Regions from separate parts of the Homo sapiens genome. Here region 2 is linked to region 1. A link means that fine-mapping ties the variant in region 1 to the expression of a gene that starts in the linked region. Tissue or cell type: whole blood. Region 1 holds a variant in brackets; the other region holds the start of a gene. All regions are shown on one strand. Distances are from middle to middle.

Region 1 (8,000 bases):
CCAAAAGACAGCTTGGTTTTGGTGGGTGGGGGTGGGTGAGTAGCAGGGGTCACAGCAGGCTGCGCTGGAATCTTGCTCCTAAGTTTCAATGTTTGTTTCGTCGGACAGTTATACAACTGTTAAGATCATCAGGTAGGTGTCCCATTGGTACCTTAAATCCATCATGCCCAGGTGTCACCTCTCTCTAATCTGCCCCATCAGCTCCTTCTCCCTGTGTTTTCTGTTTCTGCAGTGGCCATCATCCTCAGATGGTTGTATGGCCTTCTTTGGCATTTTCTCAGTATATTTATTTATGAAAATGTGAGGGGACCAATTTCACTAGCCCAGAAGCACACTTTGCCCACCTGAGGAAGAGAAATCGAGGTTTAAGCCAAGCGCAGGTTTCTCCCTAGTGGCCTGAATGAAATGGACACCAGAGGGCGCCTCAGGACCACTTTTCCTGCAAAGGAGGTTTGCATTCTTCCCCCACACAGGCCGTTTTTGCTTTAAGACATGGTCTTCTGGTGATACTTGGCTGAGGATTTGAGTCAGTTACAACAGCAAAGTACACACGCCTGTCCTCCCTTTCTTCTCCTCCTTCCTTTTGCTAGCACAGAGCTTCTTCACCTTTTAAAGGTCACAGCGATACATCCCTTTGATTTTTTTTTTTTTTTTTTTGAGATGGAGTTTCTACTCTTGTTGCCCAGGGTGGAGTGCAATGGCATGATCTTGGCTCACCGCAACCTCCATCTCCTAGGTTCAACGATTCTCCTGCTTCAGCCTCCTGAGTAGGTGAGATTACAGGCCTGCACCACCATGCCCGGCTAATTTTGTATTTTTAGTAAAGACTGGGTGTCTCCATGTTGGTCAGGCTGGTCTCGAACTCCCGACCTCAGGTGATCTGCCCGCCTTGGCCTCCCAAAGTGCTGGGATTACAGGTGTGAGCCACCATGACTGGCTCTTCCTTTGATTTTTTTTTGCTCTCCTCCCTGCCCTCAAGGTCCTGAATGCTGTGCACAGGCCCTGAGAAGGGTGAAGGGAGTGGTCATTTGTTGAGTGTCCAACTGTGAGCTTTGCCCTGTGCAATGCATTGGCAGGTGCTCTGTCATTGAGCAGGCGAATCCCAGTCCTGTAAGATTTCATCAGCATATAATAGATAATTCTATCTTTAGAAGTAACATCTGCTGAAATAGATTGCTTCCAGAATAGGCTGCATTCCTCCTGGTGGGAATCCTTGAGTGCATTACATTCTTCATGGCTTCAGAATCGGGAGGTTGGAGTCAGCCCTGGATGCTGAACCCTTTCCTCCTCCTCTTCCTGTGTCCTCACAGCTGAACGGCCCTGGGCACTCTGGTCTTTCCAAGATTACAACCAGCAGGCCTGGTTAACGTGGCCATACCAGAGCGTGGGTGGCTGATGACAACTTCATGAAGAAATGAAGGGCCAGGGAGTGGGGACACCCCCTCGGGTAGAACATCCCCTCTCTGGCCCCCAGGGGCCCATCAAAGAAGGGGTGTGGATAAGACCATCTAGAGCTGCTTCTCACTCTTAACCAATCTTTGCCAGTGTTGGGGATTTGAGGCCTGATGACACAGTGGGGACAATATTTTTAGGTTGGTATTTTTCGTGCTTTTCACATTAAGCCATATGGCCAGAAATATTCCTTCCAGAGATTGCATTATCTTTGATAAGATTGTAGAATGTTAGAAAAAGAGAGTCACAGGGCCGGGCACGGTGGCTCACGCCTGTAATCCCAGCACCTTGGGAGGCCGAGGCGGGCAGACCACGAGGTCAGGAGATCGAGACCATCCTGGCTAACACGGTTAAACCCCGTCTCTACTAAAAATATAAAAAAATTAGCCGGGTGTGGTGTCGGGCGCCTGTAGTCCCAGCTACTCGGGAGGCCGAGGCAGGAGAATGGCGTGAACCCGGGAGGCGGAGCTTACAGTGAGCCGAGATCGCGACACTGCACTCCAGCCTGGGCGACAGAGCGAGACTCTGTCTCAAAAAAAAAAAAAAAAAAAAAAAATAGAAAAAGAAAAAGAAAAAGAGAGCCACAGAAACTTACTGTCATGGAAAATTAAAAGAATTTAATGCTGGAATTGCAGGCAGGGCCACCCATGTCAGACTTGTTCCCACTGATTCCAGTGCATGCTGTCAGCACAAGGTAGGTGATCAGAAAATTAATGTATGAATGAAACTCTAGTGAATTAAATCCTAGAATGATTGACAGAATTTGAGACTCAAAGAACATTAGAATTATGGGAAAACATTATTCACTTATTCAGAAGAGGGAGCTGAGATCCCAGAAGCTAGTGACAGTCTTCTGGGTGCTGAAGGGTCCATGGCTCCTGGGGCAGGGTTCTTTCTACAGAGAAGGGGTAGCCTGGGAGGCTAGTGATGGTCCAGGACATATCTCTGAGCTCTCAAGGAGGGATGAGTTTGCAGGAAAGGAATTTTCCAAAGGGAGGGCCTTTGGTGCCAATGTTCCCCAGGCCTGGGACTACAGCAGCCCGAGGCGGGACCTCCAGGGACGGGGGGGAGGCCGAGCATAGCCTCAGCAGGGCGGGGTGGGCCCGGTGCACAGCTTGTTGGGATAATGGGCATATTTGCGGTTGTAGGTGCCCAGGTTGCGGCGAAAGCAGAGGGCAGCCCTCTTGTCACACTCGCAGGTCAGCCGCTGGCAGGTGGTCCTGCCGGCTGGATGGGACAAAGTGAGTCAGGGACCACAGAAGCTCAGGATATGTGTGGGACAGCTCTTGGCTGCTTCTGGGTCCACGTTCTTGACCTGGACCAACTCCATTCTGATGGAAGCCCAAGCTCCCGGGTTGTTTCACGGATGGGTGAGACAAGAGACAAGGGCGGGGCGCACTGTGGCTCAGGACACCAGGGAAGCTGGAAGCTTGCCCTCGCTGTCCCTCCCTGCTCTCCCAAGCCCACGCTGACTGCCCTTAGCTCTCTCCGGCCTTAGGGACACCACGTGGTTCCCTAACTCTCACTGCCCCCGACCAGGGGGATTTCTAGGCAACCCCTGCACCCCTGTGTGATGCGTTGCTGATGGCGGATTGTGGCCATCAAGCAGAGAGGACAGCTACGAAATGACAGCAACTCAATCTGATGGCTATGTGTGCCCCAGAGTGGCGTGGGCCTAGGCTGGAAGCCACTGGGACCAAAGCTGGAGGCTGCTCAGGGCCCTCTGCCTGTCCTCATCAGAGTGGACAGAGCCCAGTTTTCTGCCCATACCCAGCCTGGGAGTCAGACTTCTACCCTGACCTGTCCTTCCTAGAGCCAGCTGGCATCAGCTCTGTAGGGGCCCAGAAGGCTCCTCCTGTCTCCACTGCAGCTGCCTCTGTCACCTCTGCCTGCAGTGGCCCTGGCTCCCTTTTGTCCCCATGACTGTATCTCACAGCTCAGGCCAGGTGCCTCATTTCCCCTCTTGAAGTTGAGCCTTCGTCTCCCGTCAGGGCTCTGCCCACGCCCGCTATGTCAGCAACACCCAGGGTTGGAAGGGACTCTTAACGCCGAGCCGGTCAGCCTCTTTTGGGGGGCTTTTTCCAGGAGCTGGGCTGAGCTGGGGAAGTGGGTATAAGCCTCTCCGTTTTCTAGGTGAGGAAACAGAGGCTTTCCAGGGATTACATCACTTGTCCAAAGTCACAGGCAGGTGGAAGGTGACGCCCTGGGTAGAATCCAGAGCTTGTGTCTCCACCCACCTGCCTCCTCCCCTCAGCCCTGATCCTGGCAGGTGGCTGCTTCTGCCTTGCATGGACTCCCAGCGACAGAGACTCAGTACCTGGCACATTGCCCTGCCGAGTGGTTGGCGGCAGAGGAAATGGAGCCAGCTCTGCCCCGCCGCCAGGACAGAATTTAGAGACCTGAGTCTGCCGCGACCTCCCGAATCCTTCCGCGCTGCAGCATCCGCCCACCAGGCCCTGCCCTTCTTTCAGGCTGCTCCTGGCTTTGTGGCAGGGAGAGAGCTTGGCTCTCTCATGTGGGGTCCCTCGACAGTCTCACTTGGTTGAGGCTGCTTGCCTGGGCCTGGGACTGAAGGAAAGCTAATTGGTCCAAATGGGCACTGGACATGGCACAGCTGAGCAAATGGGTCCAGCCTGACAGTCCCATTGAGGAGTCAGCCTTTGGAAACAGCATCTGCTGTCCCCAGTCAAAGCCCCAGCTCGTTCTGTCCGAAGGACTTCACCTTTAGCTCCTGTTGAGGCCTTGGGAGGGTGCCTGAGTCCAGCTCCTCTGGGCCCTGGCTCAGCTCAGACCCCTCTGCTCCTCTTTCCAGAGGCTGGAGCTGGGAGGTGTCTGTGGGTAGGGAGATACCTGGGGCTGAGGGCTGCACTGATGGGGTACGGGCTTCTCTGGCCTGGGTGCCTGGTGAACATCTGGGTCTCCACTGTTACGTGGTAACGGGAAACCCCATGCCTCCAGCCCAGGGTCTGGCTCTGATAAGGCCCAAGGTCACCATCAGGAGGGGCTTCCTGTCTTAAGCTGCCTCCACCCACCTCACCGCAGGGTGTCTAGGTCACTTCAGGGCTCTCCACCTACCGCAGAAAATGCCACGTTCGCTGACAGAGAAAAGATACTTTTCCAGTTTGGGCTCACAGCCCAGCTTCTCCAGACGCCCGTAGCAGCAGTCGTGGGCGTGGCAGCACCTGTAAGGGTCATGGTTGACCTGGAGGGACCTGTGAGCCAGGCTGGGCTGGACCAGGGGCTGCTCGGGGCCCCCGAGCCCAAAGCAGCCCAGAGGAGAGATCAGCCTGAATTTTCCAGGTGCCCCCAGGCTTCCCTCCTTCTCCCAGGATCCTCCCAGGATCCCCCAGCTCCTCCATCCCCATGGAGGTCCCCCTGCAGGCTGCTTCCTCACCAGTCAGTCTGGTCCACCGGCCAGTGGGAGCCACCGATGCCGCAGTAACAGCCATAGTCGTTGTACTGCAGGGCGGACTTGCCTGTCATCTTCTCGATCATCACCCCAAACTGAACCAGGTTCCCGGTGACCAGAGCCACTGC[A/G]GAGAGGGAGAGGGAGAGGGAGAGGGAGGGCCCCACCCTCTGCAGCCAACTTCCCCTGATGTCCCCTCAAATCTGATCACAGGCATCTCTCCAGTTGTCCAGTTAAGCTCACCTCCCCAAAGCAACCCACTCTCAACAACAACCGTGGTAATAAGTAATAATATTGCCAGTGACATCCGTTGCACCTTCATCCCCTAGTCCTCTCCTCCAGTGTGTCAGCGCCCCCAGTGTCCCCTCCCACTCTTCTATCTACTACAGTGTCACTCATTCACCCCTTCCAGGGGCTCCCCACCAGCCACCAGTCCTCCCCAGGTGTCAGCCCTTATCTCACCCAGGAACACTCTGTCCCCCCAGGTCTCATCAGATGGCACTGGACCTGTCTCCTGACCACCTCAGCTGACCTCCCCAAATTCTTCCCGGTGCTCCTGACTCAGCCATGGGACTGAATCCTGCCCACCTTGGCAGGTTGGAGCCAAACATGGAAGCTAGGATAGGAGAAGGAGCCTAGGGTGTGCCATCCGGGAAGCGCCAGCCCCTGGCCCATGCCCCTCACCCCTCCCAGCCTGCATTCTCCTCCCCTCTGCTCCAGCCACCGCTGGCTCAGGCAAAACTGGCCTCAGGGTCACCCTGGTGGCAGGAAGGGGGCAGCCTCCAGTGTTTGGCATCCACCACACCCTCGGTAGGGCCAGGCTCAGGGGCATCCAGGGAGCTTGGGGTTGCCAGATGGGGCAGAAGGCTGAAGGTCACAAAGATCACTTACCCAGGAGGCAAAGGAACACCAGCACGTGGGGAGATTTCATCCCAGGTTGGGGGGAAGGGAGGTGCACAAGGAGCATAAAAGGCAGCAGAAGAAAGCAGCAGGGCCACCTCTGATCTCAGGGAGCCTCCTAATTAGTTAAATACCCAGGTCCTGTCCACTCCCTGTCATTAACCCGTGAGTGCCCAGTGATGCAACGATTCTTCCAGGTCTGACACTTTGGCCAAGTCCCCGGGGAGGGGCCAGCTGGGGCCTGTGGGCTCTGCTTCCAGGCAGTGTGGGGGATGGCGGGCAATCTCGTGGCTCTTTCTACTCACACCCTTCCCATCACCCACCCTTTCCAAAAAATCATCCATTGACCACGCTGTGAGGCGCGGGCTGTGCCAGGTGCTTGTCATTCTTGGTATCTTTTCCTCATCTCCACTTGACTGAGACTCAGAGAGACTGAAAAACCTCAGTTCTCACAGCCTGGAGGTGCCCAGGGCCAAGTCCGTCCTGTTTCAGAGTTTCCACCCGGGCAGAACCGGAGGCAGGAGGCCCTGGCCTGGCCTGGCGCTTCCCCTCCCCGACCCTCCTGCTCTGGTCTGTGACTGGGATCACTGACCCTGCACCTCCGTCACCGTTCAGGGCCTGGGAGTCGCTGGGTCTGTGGCCTTGGAGTCCTGGTTCCACTGCGTATTAGGCGGCCGTGGGCAGGTCCTTTCCCTTGCTTGGAACCTCAGTTTTCCTGCCTGTATTATGAGGATAGAAGGTGTCCCTCTTGCCTCCCGCACAGGAGGATGGAAAACTCACACGCAACCAGGCAGCCAGCCCTCACCAAGTACTTGCTATGCACCAGGCGCTGTGCCAAGCCCCTTTCAAGCAGGACCACAGCCCCATCACGTGGGTGCTGCAGTCATCCCCATCTTACAGAGGAGGGAAACTGAGGCACATGCATAAGTGATGAGCTAGAATTTAAACCCAGGCAACATAAAGGGCTTCACCTGGGCCAACTCATCCAGCACGAAGTGGAGGTGGTGCCTAGCAGCCATACTACTTTTAACCCCAACAGAATGTGTTACTTTCTTATAAAAGTAGGAGAAAAACCAGTACCATCCCACCTGGATTATATTTGTCTTCAAACCAAGACAGTCATAACATTTAATATATGGAGGAAGAGCCCACAAAGGCTGATGTGCCCAGGGCCCGTGACAACCGGTGTACTGCAGCCCTCGGCCTAACCAGCGGGCTCCAGGCTTCAGGAGCTGGTCTAGGGCCTGGTGCCAGCCTCCGTTCCAGGAGAGGAGACTAAACCCACTGAGTCTGGGTCTCACCCTACAGGCTGGAAGGAATCCCGACACAAATTCCCTGACCCCAACCAGCCGGAGGATAGAGGCCCGGGGAGGTTTCGCCTTGGAGTAAGGAGAGGAGGGCTGAGTGTTCATACTCTTACGTTAAAAACCTTTTATCGGCCGGGCACGGTGGCTCACACCTGTTATCACAGCACTTTAAGAGGCCAAGGCAGGTGGATCACTTGAGGTCAGGAGTTCGAGACCAGCTTGGCTTACATGGTGAAACCCCATCTCTACTGAAAATACAAAAATTAGCCAGGTGTGGTGGTATGCGCCTGTAATCCCAGCTACTCAGGAGGCTGAGGCAGGAGAATCGCTTGAACCTGGGAGGAGCAGGTTGCAGTGAGCCGAGATCACGCCACTTTACTCCAGCCTGGGTAACAAGAGTGAGACTCAGTCTCAGAAAAAAATAAATAAATAAAATAAGAGTAAAGCCCAGGAAACCCTTTTCTCCCTGCCCCTCCCATTCATTTCCTGCTAATAACTCCTCCTGGGACTCTCTTCATGCTGGGCTCTTCTCACCCTGTTTCAGAGAAGACTTGCGGGGAGAAGGGGTCAGAGAGGTGAGTCCACCTGCCCAGGATCACCTAGCAGCTGTGAGTCATGGTCTCCTGAAAAGAGAGACCTTTGTTCACGATTTCCTTTTGATCTCCTGGCAGCCCCTGCCTCTCCTGGCCTGGGTTACGAGAGCCCAAACAGTGAATCACTGAGGAGTTACCTTCTAAACAACTGAAAATTAGCGTCGATTCCCTAGTAGGTTTGGCCCACAGCCATTCCTGTGGTGGCATAAGGGGTGTTTCCCAGGAAGGGCCAGGTTTCTGAGACGATCCTTTTTGTGACCCATTTTGAATCCTGGCCTGGCTAGGACAGGGCTCCTTCAAGTCCCTGCAGGTCTACACCTGTAGCAGAAAAGTAAAGACTGT
Region 2 (8,000 bases), 39 kb before region 1:
TTTGCTTTAGGACTATCTGCGTCTGAGAGTGTACTTTTGAAGGAGCTACATTGTCCGGAGTATATACCCTGGGGTTCATCGTCTTGCACGAGGAAAATTTAGAATACGGATACACACGAGGAGTTTAGGAGGAGATGTAATATTTCTATTTTTAGGATAGATCACGAGATGTAGACACTAGACATTTAAAATGTTACCAGATACAGGCCAGGTGCAGTGGTTCATGCCTCTAATCCCAGCACAGTAAGAGGCTGAGGCACGCGGATCACCTGAGATCAGGAGTTCGAGACCAGACTGGCCAACATGGTGAAACCTCGCCTCTACTAAAAATACAAAAAAAAAAAAAAAAAAATTAGCTGGGCATGGTGGTGTGTGCCTGTATTCCCAGCTGCTCTGGAGGCTGAAGCAGGAGAATCTCTGACAATCTCTTCAGCCCGGGAGGCAGAGGTTGCAGTAAGCCGAGATCATACCACGGCACTCCAGCCTGGGCAACAGAACAAGACTCCATCTCAAAACAAACAAACAAACAAAAAAACAAAAAAAACCCCAAAGTTACCAGATACAGTCCAAATTGCCCTCCAAAGTGGCTAGATAAATTTACCTCCCAACAGCAGTGTGCGAGAGTTCTCATTTTCCCATACCCTTGATGGTATGTTCTTGAAAGTCCTAAAGCTGCATTTCTTCACTAAAATTCTGTTAGTCACACTTTTTACTAATTTATACTGCCATCCAATGAGGTTTGATTACTATTATTATTATTTTTGAGACAGGGTCTTGCTCTGTCACCTAGGCTGGAGTGCAGTGGCACAGTCATACCTCACTGCAGCCTCAAACTCCCAGGTTCAAGTGATCCTCCAACTTCAGCCCCTCCCGAATAGCTGGGACTACAGGCATGCATCACCATGCCCAGCTAATTAAAATTTTTTTGCAGAGATGGGGAATCTCACTTTGTTGCCCAGGCAGATCTTGAACTCCTGGGCTCAAGCAATACCCCCACTTTGGCCTCCCAAAGTCCTGGGATTACAGGCATGAGCCACTGTGCGGGTCAATGATTCTTTTAATTAACTCTAGCGAAGTGGGCAGAGCATTCATTTTATTTACAAGTACTATACTCCTTCCCTTTGGCCTTTAAATATAATTTATAGGCAGCATTGATTTGCACTTAGAGACACTGTCTAACACAGGTCTCCGCTGAGAAGAGAAATTCGCCCATTCAAAATCTGTGTGTGGGCTAAAGGCTAAGGGCTTATGCCAGAAAAGATTTTTTGTTTGTGTTTTTGTTTTTGTTTTGAGAAGGAGTTTCACTCTTGTTGCCCAGACTGGAGTGCAATGGCGCAATCTCGGCTCACTGCAACCTTTGCCTCCCGGGTTCAAGCGATTCTCCTGCCTCAGCCTCCCCAGTAGCTGGGATTACAGGCTGGCCTCGAACTCCTCACCTCAGGTGATCCGCCCGCCTCCACCTCCCAAAGTGTTGGGATTACAAGCGTGAGCCACACGCCCAGCCAAAAAGATTTTTACAAGACGGGCAAGTGTTCGCTTTTCTATCAATATGTTAGCAGTCTGTATTTACTTATTTGCTGGTGAGAAACCTTTCTTCCCTGGTTTCTAAAGTTTGAAAGTCTTTGCCCCTGAGCTCATGAGATTTCCAGAGAACTGATTCAAACAACTTCATTAAATAGGTACTTACTTCATGCCTGGGGCTTTACATTTTTATTTAATCTTTACAACTCTCTTTTGCATTCTTATTGTCATCAGAAAAATGCAAATCAAAATCACGATGAAATACCATCTCATGCCAGTTAGAATGGCTTTTGTTAAAAAGAAAAAATAGCAGATGTTGCTGAGGCTGTGGGGAAAAGGGGAACATTTTTACACTGTTGGTGGGAATGTAAATTAGTTCAGCCACTGTGGAGAGCAGTTTGGAGATTTCTCAAAGAACTAAAAATTGAACTACCACTCGACCCAGCAATCTCATTACTGGGTCTATACTCAAAGGAATATATATCGTTCTATCAAAAAGACAGATGCACCCGTATGTTCACTGCAGCACTATTCACAATAGCAAAGACATAGAATCAACCCAGGTACGCATCAACAGTGGATTAGATAAAGAAAATGTGGTATATATACACCATGGAATACTATGCAGCCATAAAAAAGAACAAAATCATGTCCAGGAAGAGGGGAGAACAGCAACATGGATACAGCTGGAAACCATTATCCTAAGTGAACTAAGGCAGAAACAGAAAACCAAATACTGCACGTTCTTATAAGTGGGAGCTAAACATTGGATACACATGGACACAAAGATGGGAACAATAGACTCTGGGGAATACAAGAGTCGGGAGGCAGTTGGGGGAAAGGGTTGAAAAACTACCTATTGTGTATTGTGTACTTTGCTCACTACCTGGGTGACAGATTCATTTGTACTCCAAACCTCAGCCTCACGCAATATAGATGGGGTTTCACCATCTTGGCCAGCTGGCCAGGCTGGTCTCGAACTCCTGACCTCAGGCGATCCCCTGGCCTCGGCTTCCCAAAGTGTTGGGATTACAGGCGTGGGCCACTGCACCTGGCCTCAGTTTTTGTTTTTGTTTTTTTGTTTGTTTGTTTTTTGAGATGGAGTCTCGCTCTGTCCCCCAGGCTGGAGTGCAGTGGTGCAATCTCGGCTCACTGCAAGCTCCGCTTCCCGGGTTCATGCCATTCTCCTGCCTCAGCCTCCCGAGTAGCTGGGACTACAGGCGCCCGCCACCACGCCCGGCTAATTTTTGTATTTTTAGTAGAGACGGGGTTTCACAGTGTTAGCCAGGATGGTCTCCATCTCCTGACTTTGTGGTCAGCCCGCCTCGGCCTCCCAAAGTGCTGGGATTACAGGTGTGAGCCATCACGCCCAGCCTGGTCTGTCTCAGTTTTAAAACGGAAAGTCCTGCATCCCAAGAAAACCTCTAGTCCAGGCAAACCTAGGTGGGTCGCTCTAGGATGGAATTAGGATTTCCAGTGGTCTTGGACAGAAGGGCGACCTCTCCCTTGAGTTACGAAGGAAGGCGGAGAGATGAAGGGCAGGATTAAATAAACAAGTATGCGGGCTTTGGAGCCAGGGCAAAGCTCTGCCTTTTAGCTGTGTGATCTTGAAATTATTTAACCACTCAGATTCAGTTTCCTGTAATTTGGGGATAATTAAACAAGAATGAGCCGTGTGAAAGTGCCTATCCAACTGTAGTAGGCTCGCAGCAAGAGTTTAAATCGTTTTTATTCATCTCCGGTCCTAACTTTTGCCGCTGCTCTGTGTTCCACTCTTCTATCATCTTTAATTTCTCTGCTTGACTTGTTCCTGCTTTGTTCTCTCTGGTCCCTCTCCGGTCGCTCCTGCCACTCACGTTGAGTACCATCCACCACTAGAGGGCGGAATAGAACAAACCAAGATGGGTGCCCCTCCAGCTCTCTATGGCGTCTGCTCGCCGAGCCCCGCAAAAGAGGCGGGGATTCCATCATGTGACCGGGGTGCTGGGCGCCGGCGCAGGCGCGGTTGCTGCGTAGTCGTCGCCGGGCTCCGTTGCCCGCGCTGTTTTACCTTCCCAACGCTTGAGGCGGACGCTGGGGGGTCCTGCGCCTTTCCCTCCTGCCGCTGGGGACTGCAGGCTAAGGCCATGTCCCGAAAGCAGGCGGCGAAGAGCCGGCCGGGCAGCGGCAGCCGGAAAGCCGAGGCCGAGCGCAAGCGGGACGAGCGGGCGGCGCGCCGGGCCCTGGCCAAGGAGCGGCGGAATCGGCCGGAGTCTGGCGGCGGCGGCGGCTGCGAGGAGGAGTTCGTCAGCTTCGCCAACCAGCTGCAGGCCCTGGGGCTGAAGCTGCGGGAGGTGCCGGGGGACGGGTGAGGCGGGCCGGGAGCGAGGGAGGCGGCGCCGGGGGACGCGCCGGGCTCGGCCTGGCGACCGTTGCCCGCTCGCGTCCATCCATCCATTCATTCGGGCGGCCCGGGCGCCTCCCGCGAGCCAGCCACGCTCCGAGTGCAGGGCGTCCAGCTGCGAGTGAGGCGGACAAGCCCCTCGCCCCGAGACGCTCGCGGGGATCCCAAAGGGTCCTAATCATGGCAGACGCCGCGAGCGAAATAGAAAGTGGGTGCTGAGACCGTATATGGGAGCAGGGCCACTGGATTGTGGCCAGGAAGGGCTCTCTCAAAGGTGACATTTAAGCTGAGTTCTGAAGGAATGAGATGGAGCCAGGCATTGGAAAAACAGTTATCATGACGATAAGACCAGTTGAAGGAGTTTGAGTAAGCCCCACTTGGTAGAACGCTTTGCCTCCTTTGAGTCCTTGGTTTTTGGGTGGTGCCCCCATTTACATTTGTGAAATTAGGTCGCCTGTTTACTGAGCTGAAGGCAGCTTCTCTAATTCTTCCTTCCATGGGCCTCAGTTTCTCTGTAAGCAAAGGTGCTTCCCCAAGCTTTCTTGGGACTTAGACTGGATCCAGGTCCAGCTTTCTTTAGGGAACGCGGAGGGGGAGAGTGGGGAGGAGGAAGAAAATTAGCTTCAAGAAAGGGGATATGGCTCCAGGAACATGGATGGAAGAAGGAAAAGGGTCAGGAAGAGGGGAGAACAGTTAGGATCCCCATTGCAGGGGCAGGTAAAAAGGGGTCTGGTTGTCAGCTGTGTCACTTTGGAAGAGAGAGTGTTAATAACAGCCTGGCTTTTGTTTTTTTCCTCCCCGTATTTGAGTGCTCAGATCCTGCAGAGGGAAGACTAAAATGAAATTAAAGACCATAAGGAATTGCCTTAGTTCATTATTATTGTTATTTTGTAGAGACGGTGATTTTGCTGTGTTGCCCAGGCTGGTCTCGAACTCCTGGCTTCAAGCGATCCTCCTGCCTCGGCCTCCCAAAGTGCCTAGATTACAGGCATGAGCTACCACCCCCGGCCAGGAATTGCCTTAGATATTAACTGCAGAATAAGGTGTTTTAAAAATTTTCACATTACATTGCAGCTTATTGATTAAGACTGTGAACTGGTCCTAATTTCCCTTTCCCACCGTTCCTGTTTATGCTCATTGCTTCAGGCAGATTGGATTTCTTTTTGCTCACAAAGAGTTCACCACACTTTGCTGCGTTGCTGTTTTTGCTTAAGATGCAGTTGGAACTTGATTACATTTATTCACCATCATCTGGCAAAGTGCTTGGTACATGGAAGGCAGTCAGTACGTTTTTGCTGAATGAAATATAAAAATAATAGAGGGAGGTCAGCTAGCCTAAGCATAAGCCCAAGACACCCTTATAGAAACAGAAATACCAATTGAATACAGTGGAATTGGCGTGGGACATTGGGGCTTTTCCTTGCAAATGATTGGATTGCTTGTGTCTGCTATACTGGGTATGGTATTCTCAATGTCAGGGTGCCCAGGAAACTGAAGTACTCAATAGAAGGTTACTTATGAGGAGGAATTAGCACAGGGAGTTGTAAACTCTTGAGGGGGCTTTCATAAGGTTATGGGAAACTTTGGGGGTACTACTTCTGCTCCCTATCCCCACACCCCCATACACACACAGCATACTTTTCAAGTTAATTCAGCACACCTTAAGTAGGGTGCTGGGAATATGTTGATGACTAAGATACTTAAGGACTTCATAGCCTAAGGTAGAAACACGTAACAGTGGGTCTCAGCTTTTTTGGTCTTAAGATCTCTTGGCATTCTTAAAAATTACTGAGAAACCGAAAGAACTTTATATGGGTTATAGCTATGAGTATTTACTGTATTAGAAAGTAAAACAAAGTTAAAACACAAGAATACACACACATTCCATTAGCTATCAGAGTGATGACTTCATGCATCAGGTAGCCTCTGGAAAACTCCACTGCACTTGTGAGAGAATGAGAATGAAAAAGGTACATTACATCTTAGTTTTGAACTCACGGATACCCTGAAAGCATATCAGAGACCTTCCCACATCTCCGGTCCCTTGAGTCACACTTTGAGAACAGATGATACAAATAATTAAAATATAGTTTGATATATTTTTAGTAACAGTGACTGATTATAATGGTACTATTGAGAAGGAAAAGGCTACTACTCTATGAATTGGCCAGGAAGTCCTTCTCGTTCATTCGGTAAATACTCATTGGATACACTGCTAGATGCCTCTCAGAGGGTGTCATGCTCTGATTGGGTCATGAAGGACCAATAGGAGTACACCAAGAGAACGGTCCCATCTGAGAAGGAGTATATATAGAGGCACAAGGACACGATGTTTTTGGGAGATCTACAGGTTGTTTAGGGTGACGGGTAGTGTAGGGCACAAGGGTAGAAGTAACGGGCAGTGAAGCTAGGCTCCAGAAACCAGCTTGACTGGAGTGCTCATGTCTCTCTTCCAAGGTTCCTGTTATTCGGACAGTGTTAGATAAAATGATCGTATTTCCTCTTGTGTGGGCTTCATGGAGCTAACCACCTTCTGTTCACAAGTTCTTCACATGAGTTCCATTAGCTGGACTGTGGTTCAGCCCTCGTCAGTATCCTAGTCCTTTCGAATGTGGTGATGACAGACTTTATCACTGCAGGGGATGGTGTTTCCTGTGTATGTGATGGGTTGGCAGGTGTCAACAGATTCTTCTACCCCCCTCAGACGGAGTCTTACTCTGCCACCCAGGCTGGAGTGCAGTGGCACAATCTTGGCTCACTGCAATCTCTGCCTCCTGGGTTCAAACAATTCTCTTGCCTCAGCCTCCTGAGTAGCTGGGATTACAGGCACCTGCTACCACAGCCAGCTAATTTGTTTGTATTTTTAGTAGAGATGGGGTTTCACCATGTTGGCCAGGCTGGTCTCGAACTCCTGACCTCATGATCCATCCGCCTTGGCCTCCCAAAGTGGTGGAATTACAGGTGTGAGCCACCGCGCCTGGACAACGGATTCTTTTATTAATGTTTATTAAGGACTCAGGTGAAATATAATGAAGTTAAAGACTATTAAAAAATAGTTGACATCTCTAGCGTTCCCTGTTTTCATTCAGATTTGATTACAATCTGGAGTAGCCTGATACAGTATCTATGAGCATGTTCATTGTTGGCAATATGGTACCTGTAGCATTCTGGAACCTGAGGGGGTTTAGGGATGAATTAACCAATATCCTGTAATACAGCCTTTACATGGGTTGAGTCAGCTTAGTGTAGATTAATCAGGGAGCTACTTAGAGGGTTTTGTAATGCTTCCTGGACCAGCTTCATATTTCACGTGTTGTCTGGAAGGTGGACCCACATAAATTGGATTCATTTTTCAAAGCAAGAAAGAAATAGTTTAACCTTGATGTTTTCCTTAAAAACATGATTGGCTATAGTGTGAAAAGAATGTATAACTCTATTTATTAGGCAGTACAATATTAACATCCCTCTGAACTTATCTAGTTGGGTCTTACTAAATGTAGTTCTGAGTTACATTACTCATTAGCAGTGTTCTAAAATTGAAACATTGAAGAATCACTAATTTTAGCTGTTTATCTTATTACTAACAAGTAGTTTATTTTTTAGTTTTGTTTTTAATATTGCAGGATCACAGTAGTAGAAGGGCATTCACACATCATCTTGTCTAATTATTGCCTGTGTCACCTGAACAGCAGTGCCATCTTTTGTGCCTCACTCAGTGGTTTTCAGTTGGGTGCCATACTAGAATATCTGGGGAGGAACTTTTGAAACAATTCAGGGCCTGGGCTCTCCCCTAGATCAACTACATCAGAATCTTAGAGTGGGGCCTGGTTATTGATGTTTTTTAAAAAAAAATTTACAGATGATTCTTATATGCATCCATAATTGAGAGTGACTGATTTAGAGTCTAGATGCTCAACTAGTGTTTCTCAAACTTCAGTATGCAACATAACCACCTGGACTGCTAGTGAAAACACCTGGAAGGGCTACGTTGCTGGGCCCCAACCCCAGAATGCCTGATTGAGTAGGCCTGGGTGGGCCCCAGCATTTTCATTTCTAACAACTGCCCAGGGGATGCTGATGCTCCTAGTCCGGGAAC

Evidence for each region. PIP is the estimated chance that this variant, and not a neighbour inherited with it, causes the effect.
Region 2: it holds the start of OTUD3, and the variant in region 1 is fine-mapped to the expression of OTUD3 in whole blood (TOPMed, PIP above 0.99).

The regions. Positions count from the first base shown.
Region 1 is chr1:19,917,771-19,925,770 of GRCh38, forward strand. It overlaps PLA2G2E (phospholipase A2 group IIE), which reads right to left and starts at 5,847. Exons shown (of 4, transcript NM_014589.3): 1 at 5,750-5,847; 2 at 4,847-4,985; 3 at 4,528-4,634; 4 at 2,239-2,679. The coding sequence starts at 5,789. The coding sequence ends at 2,537. RefSeq lists enhancers at 2,673-3,225, 3,226-3,778. The variant A/G (reference allele first, on the strand shown) is at 4,990.
Region 2 is chr1:19,878,867-19,886,866 of GRCh38, forward strand. It overlaps OTUD3 (OTU deubiquitinase 3), which reads left to right and starts at 3,529. Exons shown (of 8, transcript NM_015207.2): 1 at 3,529-3,868. The coding sequence starts at 3,648. The region is part of intron 1 of LOC105376823 (a long non-coding RNA gene); the gene reads right to left. RefSeq lists an enhancer at 3,313-3,362 and a silencer at 3,733-4,072.